Regions from separate parts of the Homo sapiens genome. Here all the other regions are reported to be linked to region 1. The links are microRNA targets in miRTarBase. Many come from high-throughput screens and were not tested one by one. Region 1 holds a microRNA gene; each other region holds the end of a gene's coding sequence.
The links. Region 1 holds the annotated microRNA hsa-miR-519c-3p (AAAGUGCAUCUUUUUAGAGGAU, at 1,675-1,696, shown strand). A microRNA usually pairs through its seed, bases 2 to 8, with sites in the 3' UTR of a target mRNA and lowers its output. Matches are read on the target gene's strand: a 7mer-m8 pairs with bases 2 to 8, a 7mer-A1 pairs with bases 2 to 7 and ends in A, and an 8mer does both.

Region 1 (3,185 bases):
GCCTTTGAAGCAAGGAACTGGAGATGGTCCTTTTAGGGGTTTATATTCTGGATTCCAGAAAACATGCAGAGAGAGTCAATAAATGTATCTTTATTTTTGTGTCCATTTTAACCAGGTGAGGAAAATTCCGTCAAAAAACCCAGACTTTTGGAGCGAGAAGATCTCATGCAGTCATTCTCCAAAAGAAAGCACTTTCTGTTGTCTGAAAGCAGAGTGCCTTCTTTTGGAGCGTTACTGTTTGAGAAAAACCACGTTGAAGTTGATGCTGATCTTGGTAACACATTTGCAGAGCGTGCTTATCATCAGACTTGCATGATGTTGGGGTTCTGTTTTTGTTTAGTTGTTTTGCATCATGGGGTCTCTGTTGCCCAGGCTGGAGTGCGGTGGCGCTTCCAACCTAGATCTCTTGGGCTCAAGTGGTCCCGTGCTTGCTTTTTTTTTTTTTCTTGAAACAGAGTCTCTGTCTCTGGCCCAGGCTTGAGCGCAGTGGCATGTTATCTGCTCACTGCAACCTCTCCTCCCAAGTAGATGGGATTACAGGTGCACGTGCCACGACGCCTGGCTAATATTTGCATTTTTAGCAGAGATGCAGTTTCATCATGATGGCCAGGTTAGTCTCCAACTCCTGACCTCAGGTGATCCGCCTGCCTCAGCCTCCCAAAATGCTGAGATTATAGGTGTAAGCCACCCAGCCTAGCCTCCAATTTTTTTTAATGTGTGCTGCCAATGCAAGCACATATGTGTAGGAATTATTTTTCATGTGAGCACATAGTATATGGAACTTAATTTTTATTGATGTACGGTCTCAAAAATATATATTTTATCATATTCTTATTATACATGTAACATAGTCATATACACACAAAACACTCTTCTATACACAGAGAATACTCTCGTATCACTTTGGGTAATTTTTTGTTTGTGTGTGTATGTTTTTGTTTTTTTTTTAGATAAGGTCTGGGTCTGTCACCCAGGCTAGAGTGCAGTGGTGCCATCTCAGCTTATTGCAACCTCCACCTGCCACTTCAGCCTCTTGAGTAGCTGTCTACAGGCGCACACCACCACGCCCGGCTAACTTTTCTGTTTTCTCTACACATGAGGTATCACCATGTTGCCCAGGCTGGTCTCAAACTCTTGAACTCAAGTGATACTCCTGCCTCAGCCTCCTAAAGGGCTGGGTTTAGAGGTGTGAGCCACCACACCTCACCTGTACCTGTGTGTTTCTGCTCATTTTATTGAGGAGCTTTTACAGCCTGGCCTGTGGTCTCTCCTGGAGGGTGTTTGTGTGTGTGACAATGCATATTCTTCAACATCGTAGATTCCATTTTGGATGCCCCCGTCGGGACTGTGTGTCACTGTACTGGAACTCGAGTGAACACTTAGCTCAAAATCTATTGCTGTTCTCTAGAATCCAGCCCAATTCTCATGGTTAAATATAAGGTATGTATAGTCGGCATTGCTTTTTGAAACAAGGAACTGGAGATGGCCCTGATAGGGGTTTATGTTCTGGATTCCAGAAATCATGCAAACAGGGCCAATAAATGCATCTTTATTTTTGTGTCCATTTTAACCTGGTCAAGGAAAATTCCAACAAAAAATCAATGGTGCTGGAGCAAGAAGATCTCAGCCTGTGACCCTCTAGAGGGAAGCGCTTTCTGTTGTCTGAAAGAAAAGAAAGTGCATCTTTTTAGAGGATTACAGTTTGAGAAAAGCAACGTTAACGTTCATGCTGATCTCGGCAATACATTTGCAGAGCGTGCTTATCATCAGACTTGGATGAGGGTGGGCTTTTGTTCCTGGTTTGTTTGTTTTCTAAGACGGGGTCTCTTTTGCCCAGGCTGGAGAGCAGTGGCACTTCCAACCTAGCTCTCTTGGGCTCAGGTGGTCCTCTTTGCAGGGTCACGATCTCTGCTCACTACAATCTCCCCTTCCCGGGTTGAAGTGGTTCTCCCATCTCAGTCTCCTGTGTTGCTGGGAGTACAGGCCCATGCCACCACGCCCGGCTAATTTTTGTATTTTTAGCAGAGATGGGGTTTCACCGTGTTGACCAGGATGGTCTCCATCTCCTGACCTCGTAATCCACCTGCCTCGGCCTCCCAAAGTGCTGGGTTTACAGTCATGAACCACTGCACCCGGCCTTTGATCTTAATTTTCAATATGAGACCCATCATGAATTTGGGCATCACCTCTGCACAGGGGCCATGGTGATCTCTGTCACTCCATTCATTTCTTATGTGTGGAGCAAACATTTATGTGTAGGAGTAATTCTTTATGTGAGCATACAGTATATGGAACTTTCTTTTTTTTTGAGATAGGGTCTGGAAAATAAATGATGTACAGCCAGGCGCATGAGTATATGAGCAGTTTTTGTGTGTATACGACATGAGCGGTGGCTCATGCCTGCAATATCAACACTTTGGCAGGTTGAGGCGAGTGGATCACTTGAGGTCAGGAGTTTGAGACCAGCCTGACCAACATGGTGAAACCCTGTCTCTACTAAAAATACAAAAAATTAGCCAGCTATGGTGGCGCACGCCTGTATTCCCATCTGCTGGGGAAGTTGAGGGAGGAGAATCACTTGAACGGACAGATGGAGGTTGCAGTGAGCCAAGATCACGCCACCACACTCCAGCCTGGGCGAGAGAATAAGACTGTCTCAAAAAAAAAATATATATATACATATATATTTATATAGAGAGAGAGACTCTGTCTCAAAAAAAAAAATATATATATGGGTGTGTTTGTGTGTATATATATATTATATATGATGTATATTTCATCATATAGCCATATATATAATTATATACACAAAAAATACTCTTCTACACACAGAGATGACTGATATCACTTTGGGGTGGTTTTTGCTTGTGTGTTCTTTTAAATTTTTTTTTGCAACAAGATCTGGCTCAGTCGCCCAGGTTGGAGTGCAGTGTTTCAGTCTTGGCTCACTGCAACCTTCGCCTCCCACCCCAGCCTCCTGAATTAGTGTCTACAGGCATGTACCACCACACCTGGCCTACATTTGTATTTTTTTACAGACAGGGTTTCACCGTGTTGTACACGCTGGTCTTGAGCTCCTGAGCTCAAGTGAATCTCCTGCCTTGGCCTCCTGATGTGCTGGGATTAGAGGTATGAGCCACCACACCCAACTGGTACTTGTGTATTCCTGTTCAAATTTTATTGAG
Region 2 (3,185 bases), not on the chromosome of region 1:
AAATGTGACTAAGAAACGTAACATAATTATATAAACTTTATTCAGCAAAATAAAGGGTTTTTATTCGTGTTGTTATGTTGTTTTTGTTTTTTATTTTAAAGGAAATGGAGAAATCAGATGCCAACAACTTCTTAATCTTGTTCCGGGATTCAGGATGCCAGTTCAGATCTTTATACACTTATTGCCCAGAAACTGAAGAAATCAATAAACTGACTGGGATAGGCCCTAAATCTATCACTAAAAAAATGATTGAAGGACTTTACAAATATAATTCTGACAGGAAACAGTTTAGCCACATACCCGCTAAAACTTTATCTGCCAGTGTTGATGCAATTACCATTCATAGCCATTTATGGCAGACCAAAAGACCAGTAACACCCAAAAAACTTTTACCCACTAAGGCATAGAAGTTGGGAAATACTTGCTTCAGAACATTCATGGTAAATTTGCACTTCATCTTTCCTGCCTATAGAAAATCTTTCTAATTGCCAACAAGACTTTTATTAATTAAAACTGGACATTAAGCTCTGTTGTCATGAACAACTGGAATGTAAACCACAGTATTTTGGAGTGCAGAACATTCTCAATTAAGTGATAAGTCCAAATGATGAAGGAAATGTTTTAATTCACAAATGGAGATTTGTATGTGTTATCAGGTTCACCTGCTTGATATTAGATACATTAAAGCACTGAATTTTCATGGATATTAGTTGGATTTATCATTGAAATATGGTTAAGATTACAAATTATGTGTTTTATTTGTTGCTTTTTTTTAACCTTTTAATGTATATTCTTGTCTTCAGATGGTTTGCTATTTTTCTCTCCTGGGGGTTTATTCTAAGATACCTTTGTATTTTATTTCATGTGGAGATCATGAAAGTAGGAAATATACCTTTAGAAGTAACTCGCACCTTTCTTATGATGTTAAGAGAAACACTAGTGTTTAGTTTTACAGTAACCCTCATATTTTAATGGTGTTACAGCATTTGCAAAAATTATTCTGCTAAGTATTTACAACTCTATTTATTATTCACTCAAGTATTAACATTCTCTATTAAATAAGAGGAGGTGTTGTAAAGAGCTGCTAGTAGGTTCGCTTTAAACCACATGAGCTTAACCAAGAATATGTTATGAGAAGTTGCTGATTAAATCAGTGCTGTTTTTACACCACTTCTGGCCAACTCAGAATAATTTAGATTGTTCTTTTAACAAAAAAGGCTTTCTATCTCTTTTAAAGTAAGTCACTTTATAAGTTGGCAGAAGTGAATGACACTTTGAGAGTAGTCTTTCAATCTGAAGATGTAAGACTTCCTGAAACAAGTTCTCAAGAAGTCTTTACATTATATTTATAACTCATATAAAAATTATATTTAGAATTTTTAAACATGTACAAAGGGCTACATTTTAATTTTAAAATAGCTTCACATTATTTTACTTATATTGGGTTTTTCTTCATTTTAATCCTTTTCAAGTGGAATGGCTTAGAATAAGTATACACTTGAAATCTCCTCTACATGATCTTTGTTCTTTAACAGTGTATACCAGAGGGTTAGTTGGGGAAAAACTTCATTCTCAGGAAAAGACTTGAATGATTATGTGACCCTGTTATATTTCAGTGTTGTGACAAATGTGTAAACTAGCGGGGGAAGACAGTATTGTATCATAAATGAGATGCGTAGTTTGTTTTCTTTCATGGGAAGTAGAGATAAAAATATATACATTTCTCTAATTGAGTTGTTTAGAGAAAGAACTAATGTCTCATATGATGTATTTACTTATTTTAAAAAAAAGAATAGGAATGAGATGTCCCTGAGCTGTACTTTTCTATTATTATAAGGCCTTTAGGCATCAGTGCATCTGGGTTATCAACATTTTCTCAAATGCTGTCAATATTTTACTGTAATTTATGTTCTTATATTTATGTATATTTGTTAAAACTGTAAAAAAATTTCACAGATTTTTTTCCAATACCTGTGCAAGATACATGTGTAGCTCAAAACTATTTGTGATCTACTGTTTGCATGTAAGAGACCAGGATATGTAACTCTTATATTTTAAGTGTATACATATTGTGTATATAACATATGGATATTAAAAATGGGGAATTGCACATTTTACCTTTTGGACAGTAATTTCTATCACAGTTAGAAGGAAATGATAGTCAAATACACGTTTAGATTAAAACTAGTTTAAAAAATTATAAATGAATCTAATCAAAATGTGAATAGTAGTCAAAAGGATAATTTAATAAGCATTTTACGTTACTAAATTTGTTCATTTCAATATTAACTAAATTTCCCTCATCAAAGCAATCTTTGTGATATTACTTCGCTATTAAATAAAGAAAATTGGATGCAAGACAATGGAGAAACTTTAAAACTAAACAGGACCACCCTTTATTCTTAAATTTGTGTGTGTCCAACAGTTGAATTGAATGTCTATAAGGTCTAAAGGTAGAATGTGAATATTGCCACAGAGTTCATTGCTCTCAGTATAAGATTTTACTTTATTAATGCAGAAGGAATATGGATATATTTCTTTAAGTCTGCAGATTTTTTTATTATGGTGCAGCTTTTTTTTAATTATGTTTTTAAAATTATACAGTTGAAAAATATGCCATTTCATAAAGTCTGAGGATTTTCGTCAACCTTACTGAAACACACTGGTGCTTTCATCATCAGAGGTCAAATTATTATGATAACTATTCCATTAAGTTTGCCAAACATTTGTCGTGGTTACCAGTGCAGCCTGTCAAATTCTGCTATTTGACACAGCTTTGGAAAGATTTAGTTCTTGGTTTTTCCGTTTTGTATTAGAATGACTGTTACAGTTTTATTTGGCTGTTTAAAGCCAAATTCAGCTATTTAATTATGGTTTCATGGACACTGTTGAGCAATGTACAGTGTATGGTGTGCTTACCTGTCCACTCTAGAGCATTGCTTACAGGTTTTTTGTTTTTTAAGATGCTGTGCTGTAAAATACTGTCATACTTGCTATTTCCTGGTACAGTGTAGTTTTTCCCCTTTCATTTGAATAAAAGCATGGCACCAAATGACTCCTTTTCTGTTTCTTGAATAAAATGTAGTTTTTGGTAAAATTATTTGAACTTGAGATAACTCATACAGTTTTTCTATCCCCTAACCTATGTTTAAATTTAATAACTTGAATATTCATAACAGGCAACT
Region 3 (3,174 bases), not on the chromosome of region 1:
GGGGGGCATTGCTGTCACCCCAAGCTGAGGGTTGAAATCCAAGAGGTTGATCTTGTGATTTACAGATCTCTCTCATGTAAGAGGAGCAACAGGAAAGCACGTGAGAAAGGCCTGCAGCACTGAGTGCTCAGGGCTAAGGTGACAGTACTGCTCCCAGAGACCCTGACGGTCTCAGCAGGGCATGGGCACAGAAATCCTCTGGGTATTAGAGACAGACGCCTACCAAAGCACAGGGCGTCATCCCACGGTCACCCTGATGAGCCTGGTGTCTCCCTCTGTTAGGTGATGCTGTGTAACCCCATCTGCGGCGTCAGCTATGCCCTGACAGTGTGGCGATTCTTCCGCGATCGAACAGAAGAAGAAGAAATCTCACTAATTCACTTTTTTGGAGAGGAGTACCTGGAGTATAAGAAGAGGGTGCCCACGGGCCTGCCTTTCATAAAGGGGGTCAAGGTGGACCTGTGACGGGCAGTGGCCCCGGTGACCTTGGGGCCTCCGACCCTGTGCAGCCTGGGACAAAACTGTTTCCGGTTGGCCGCTGCCACATGGATTTTCTTAATCGTTTTATGTCATTAGTCACTCTTCTGGAATGTCACTCAAGACCAAGCGGTCAGAAGGCCTGAGGACCCAAGGCCCCACTGGAGCAGTCTGTCCTTATGCCGAATCAAGGCGGAACATGGGTGAAAGACGAGTAAGGGGCAAATCACAGCAATATTCCACAGCGCCCTCCAGAGTTACCTGGGGAGGACCGAGGCCACACGCCACTGCCCCCGAGGCCAGAGTGTAAGTAAAGGATAACCAGGACTCGCTGGGAGAGATGGACTCTGTCCTCAGCAACACTCCACAGCAGAAAGGGGTAGCAGGTACCCCTTCTTATCAGCGGTAAAAATGCATTTACAACCTTTCATTTAACCGAAAAACACAGACCGCTTTAACCTCTTTATTTCTGTCCCCCACTGCATGAACATCTATACAATTTTAAAAATACTTCCTCATAGGATGCTTTGGCCCTTCATCTATTTAATCATAGCTACATACCTATTTTTTATAAGTAGCAGTACACATTCAAAGGGGTATTCCTAGCTCAATGCTTGGTGTTCTAGTTCAACTTTTATCCTGCAGCAAGTAAGCCTAGATAACTCTACACGATTTGGCTGAGTGGCTTTGTGTGACCGTGGCCCCAGGCCAAGGGGATCATGGCCCTGGCTGGCTTTCCCGGGGGTCTCAGCTCCTGTTGTCAGTGATAGGCGGCTCAAAGGAGCATCAGTTTCTTTTGATCCAAGAAGTGCTTACTGAATGCCTGCCCTGTGCGTGGCCTTAAACATTGAGAAGTGCTGCTCTCCGTTTATTTGGGATTTGATTCTCATTTTACCATAGCTTATATTCTCAATTTCAATGCCAGTCTCAGAACTCTTGTTTTCTGTGTTCTGTTCTCAAAATTACATTGTCCCTCATGTCATTTCAAACTGTTTTCCAAAGGGATTTGAGCATATACAACTACAAATCCAAGCAGATTGACTCTCAAAAATAATCTTAAATACTGCAAATAGTCCCAACTAAGATTCAGTCAGTATGTTTGTTTTGCAAGTTTGGGAGAGTAAGTTGGCTTTGAGTCACACATCGAAGCTTTAAGAGGTGAGACGCTGGCTTCATTCTGGACTAGACAGGAACTTGGCCTCAGCGTGAGATCCTGCCATGCAGTGTTGCGGTGGCACTGAAGAAGTGTGAATGTGAAGGCGGCGTCGGCGCGGGGCCAGAGCACCACTCTGCTGCCCCACCACGCGGCCTGTGAGGAGCCACTAAACCTTTCCGTGCCTAGACCTCCCCATCTGTGGAATGGGGTCAATACCACCTACCTCACAGGGGTGTTGTGAGGACTGAGAAGAACAATGTCAAATGTTTTTAATACTCAGATGTGGGAGCGACATCAATGAAATCTGTACTGTATGAAAGCTACACAAAAATGGGCAGACATTTGGTTAATTGTGCCAGATACCTAAAATGTATGTTCAGAAAAGCATTTTATCAACTCAGAAATATGACTTATTTCTAGATTTCATGGCTTAATGAATTTTTTCATTGTTATATATACCAAAGAGGCTTACGGGTTCATTGATTGGTTTGAAAACCAGACAGACGGCCGGGCGCGGTGGCTCACGCCTGTAATCCCAGCAATTTGGGAGGCCAAGGCGGGTGGATCATGAGGTCAGGCGTTCGAGACCAGCCTGGCCAACATGATAAAACCCCGTCTCTACTAAAAATACAAAAAAATAGCTGGGCGTGCTGGCGGGTGCCTGTAATCCCAGCTACTCAGGAGGCTGAGACAGGAGAATCCTTTGAACCCAGGAGGCGGAGGTTGCAGTGAGTTGAGATCGGGCCTTTGCACTTCAGTCTGGGCAACAGGGCGAGACTCCATCTCAAAAAACAACAACAACAACAAAAAAAACCGGACGGACTTGCCCATCGGCCCTCACGACACGCGTGCAGTGGGACTCTAGCCAAGGCGGTGGCCGAGCCATCATTACAATTTTTCTGGAGTAAAGGATCCACGGTGGGACATCAACTGGCACTTACTCTGTTTAGGAACTTGAGTTGAATCATTTCTAAACTTGTCCTTTAGACCACGCCTAGGGCAGCAAATTCCACTTCCTAGAACTGCAAACCGGGAGAGGATGTAGTTAGATTCTGGCATCCTGCCCCGGCTCTTTGAGGGAAAAGTTCTTTCCCCTGCTCTAAGTAGGGCGGGCCCAGCCTCCATTCCCATTGGGAGCCATGAAGTTGTCTTGTTGATAGGTCTAGGGCAGCTGTTGGCAGCTGCTGGCCTTGTGGATGGTAAGCTGACTGTGTTGGCATTTAATGCCATCCTCCATCTGCCAGAGGCCCAGGAAGCCCACCTTCACACCAGGCCCACCAGCTGGAAGGAGCCCAGGAGGCAGGTCTTAGGGTTTCATGGTGAAATGCTGTCTGACACCAGGGAAAACTTGACGTACTCTGCTTTGGAGAGGAATTCCAGGGGTAGGGATGGTGGGAGAACATTCCCACCCTGTTTATAATCCCAGAGCAGAAGTCAGCAATTACTTAGGGATAAAAGATGAACTCCATTTTTTTTATTTTCTTAAGACAGTCTTGCTCTGTGGCCCAGGCTGGAGGCTGGAGTGCAGTGGCACCATTTCG
Region 4 (3,185 bases), not on the chromosome of region 1:
CAAGCAATTTATAATCTAAAGACATGGAAATTTTTTCTTTAACCCTTGGTACAAGGTGCCAGGTAGAGACACACCTGGGAGAGAGTTCTTACGGTCAGTATAGCTGAACACCTGTTATCTGATTCTAATGTACTGTAAATAGCAGATGGGAACTAGAGTTTTGTATTGGTAACCACAGTGGAAAATGTCCTTAGAGTGCATTTGAAATTGTAATTGCAAAGGTCTGCTTGGCGTTTTTCAGGACGATACCTGGCGGATTGTTGATGGACCTGGGAAAGTGATGTGGCTTCAGGGATTACAAACCTGCCATTCTGCATTATCTGTTCTTTCCAAACACTATTTTAACTTGTATGATGTCTTTCAAACTTAGACATATTTGAGAGCTGACTACAAACATTAAATCGCACTTTTAAAGTGAGTCATTGAAATAAATAGTACTGAAATGATTCTCTATGTTGTAAATGATCAACTACAATATTCAGGAAGCACATTTATTCAGATTCTCAGTAAAAATGAAGTTTTTGTAGGATTAATTTTTAAATTATTTCCAGTGTCTATGTTGAAAAAAAGGGTTATAGTGTAATATCAGGCCTAAAGTTTCAGAAGAGCAAGCACAAAGTAATTTAGCTTTCCATACATTTTTAGAGTCAGAGATAACTTTGAAATTTCATAAGTTTGATATTCAGTGGATACAAATAGAACATGAATTCTAAGTTTTGGGTAATGTTAACTCAGAACACTTAATCAAATTGAGCTATGTGCCATAAGGTAATCAGACCAGAGTCCAAGTTGTATGCAAAAAATCTATAATTTGATTCTCATAAACATATTAATAAAGTATAAGTGATGTTTTATATGATTTTTAAAAAAAATTCTCAAGTGCAATGTGTTTTAAAATAAGCTTGCAAATGACAGCAGAGACATTTACTTCTGCAGTTAGTTAACTTTATAGGAGTTGTGATTTTTTTGATGAATTAATGCTGTAGATTTAATTTATTTTTATATGGAATTGCATAATGTGTGCCTTTTAAAACAATAACAAAAACCAGAGATGTGCCTATACAATTTGTGTTCATTAATGTGCCTCACTTTTTTTCTCAGTCTGAATCTTCTGTTCAGAATCTTACAGTGATCAAGCATTTTTATAAGATATTTGCAATTTTTGTAAATATTTTTGGCCTGCAACTGGGAAGGGGATTCAGAGTCATAAAGCCTAACTTAAGAATCCTGGCTCACTTCTTTGGTGATACACTGTAGCCACTAGAAAGAGAAATAAACCCAATGGCATGTGTTTACAGGAAGAAAGATTACCTTCAGATACTTGACATTAACCTCATCAAAAGTGTGTGAATTTTAAAACAAATTCTAAAAAAACTATAGTGCTAAATTGGTAACTGGTATTTTAACTCTCAATTTAGCATTTTCCTTGATACTTTATCATTGAAAATTTATGCATTTATTTACTGATTGTGTTGTGAACATGAGTTTTATGGTATTTTGTGAGGGATGCATTTTTTAAAAGATTAATTTTGGAAACAGAAGGAGAAGCACTGCCATTTGTTTTTATTTCAACAATTGGAAAAATTACCAATTTGTACATTTTAATTATTCAATTTCTACTTTGTAAAAATAGGGAAATTATTTGAAGTGATATATTTGGTTAAACATTTCTAAAAATAAACTACCAATACTAAATAGTAAGAAACCTAACTTTAGTAGCAAATCTTGATTAATTGAAGAAATAAAATATTTCGGATAAGGTTTCATAATTTACAAATGGGAATTTCATTTATAATAATAAATATGAGTGTCCTTTATTTGCCTAGTAGAAGTGATAAATTGTGTTATATATGATAATTTATATAAAACCACTAATTGTTCCGTTAAGCTTCACAGAAAATAAAACCTCTATTACTAGACATTTATGTAACATCTTGCTGTACTAAATACAGCAGAAAATCTACTCTTTAGCAATATATAACACAGTATATGCTTTTTTATATATTCAATGTTAGCCCAAGTCTGAATTTACATTTGACTAAAGCAGCACATAAGATAATTTGCTAAAATGCTAATCTTTACTAAATAGTGAGCTAAATTAGAATTTCTAACTCTTATATTGTGCTCTTTTAAATGCCAATTACAGTCCCTTACTGGAATTCTAACTGTAATTTGCTTTGCAATCAAACTGCTTTTAGGGCAGCCAATATTTTATTATTGGAATTCAGACACTGTTCTTACCGTGTTTGTTTTTAATCAAATATTACCTAAAAATGTACAAATTAGTGAAATGGTTAAACTTCTGCACTTTCTTAGTTACCACAGTCTTCATACCAAGTATTGGGTACAGGTTACAATTTTGAAGCCATATGAGTTTATATTGATTTTTTTTTTCCATTTAAAAATCCACTAATGGTGTAAAAGAGACCAGTAGATTTTCAATGGGAAATGTACCTAGCAAGCTGGTTCTTGCTTATATATAGTGATAAACTTTGTAGCTGCCTCTTTAACCAAGAATTTGTAAACACAACTCTAATAAATGTGAGTTTTAAAGGATTGTTATTTACTACTTTGGATTGTAATTAGAACAATGCACATCTGTCTTCCAAGATTTTGTAAATATTTTTGATTTTTTTCATTAAATGTAAATTTTACATAAAAGTTGTGCTCTTAATAAACATGTAATATATAATTTATCAATTGGTTTATGTGTCTTTGTACTTGATAGTAATAGCTATATCATAATGTTAGGACAAGGCAAGCTGGCCAAGTAATTGGTTTTTAACTTTGTACTACTGTTTGAACAGGCGTACAGATCGAACTGTTATTTATTGGTTATATAGAAAGCTTCATTTGGAGTATATCCCAAAGTGTCAAAATTGTTTAACAAGGGATTATTTTTAATATATTTTAAGATATATTTAAATTGATGTTAAATTTTTGCAGACTTTCTTCCTAACCAGTTGCTCAGGAACACAGTCTCAGACAGTTCAAAAATCATAATGTTCCAAAGAATTAGTTAAGACAATCAAGCCTCCCAAAATGGTAAATTTAGGAAGGAGCAAAAGAAGGAAATTAGAAAAGAAAGAATTTATCCTAACTATTGAAAATTTTGGGCTGGGTGCAGTGGCGCATTACTGTAATCCCAGCACTTTGGAAGGTCGAGGTGGGCAGACCACATGAGG

Region 2: the mRNA of CAMSAP2 is a reported target of hsa-miR-519c-3p. Seed matches in the 3' UTR shown: 7mer-m8 at 448-454.
Region 3: the mRNA of ICMT is a reported target of hsa-miR-519c-3p. Seed matches in the 3' UTR shown: 7mer-m8 at 2,382-2,388 and 7mer-A1 at 2,567-2,573.
Region 4: miRTarBase lists FCHO2 as a target of hsa-miR-519c-3p. Seed matches in the 3' UTR shown: 7mer-m8 at 2,304-2,310.

The regions. Positions count from the first base shown.
Region 1 is chr19:53,684,848-53,688,032 of GRCh38, forward strand. MIR519C (microRNA 519c) reads left to right here and starts at 1,622; the gene lies at 1,622-1,708. It overlaps MIR515-2 (microRNA 515-2), which reads left to right and starts at 162; the gene lies at 162-244. The region is part of intron 2 of LOC107985342 (a long non-coding RNA gene); the gene reads left to right.
Region 2 is chr1:200,857,653-200,860,837 of GRCh38, forward strand. CAMSAP2 (calmodulin regulated spectrin associated protein family member 2) reads left to right here. Exons shown (of 17, transcript NM_203459.4): 17 at 102-3,052. The coding sequence ends at 407. Among named protein-coding and RNA genes, the nearest start is that of GPR25, 14 kb to the right of the region's middle.
Region 3 is chr1:6,222,371-6,225,544 of GRCh38, reverse strand. ICMT (isoprenylcysteine carboxyl methyltransferase) reads left to right here. Exons shown (of 5, transcript NM_012405.4): 5 at 283-3,174. The coding sequence ends at 465. Among named protein-coding and RNA genes, the nearest start is that of ICMT, 12 kb to the left of the region's middle.
Region 4 is chr5:73,087,827-73,091,011 of GRCh38, forward strand. FCHO2 (FCH and mu domain containing endocytic adaptor 2) reads left to right here. Exons shown (of 26, transcript NM_138782.3): 26 at 242-2,696. The coding sequence ends at 264. Among named protein-coding and RNA genes, the nearest start is that of TMEM171, 31 kb to the right of the region's middle.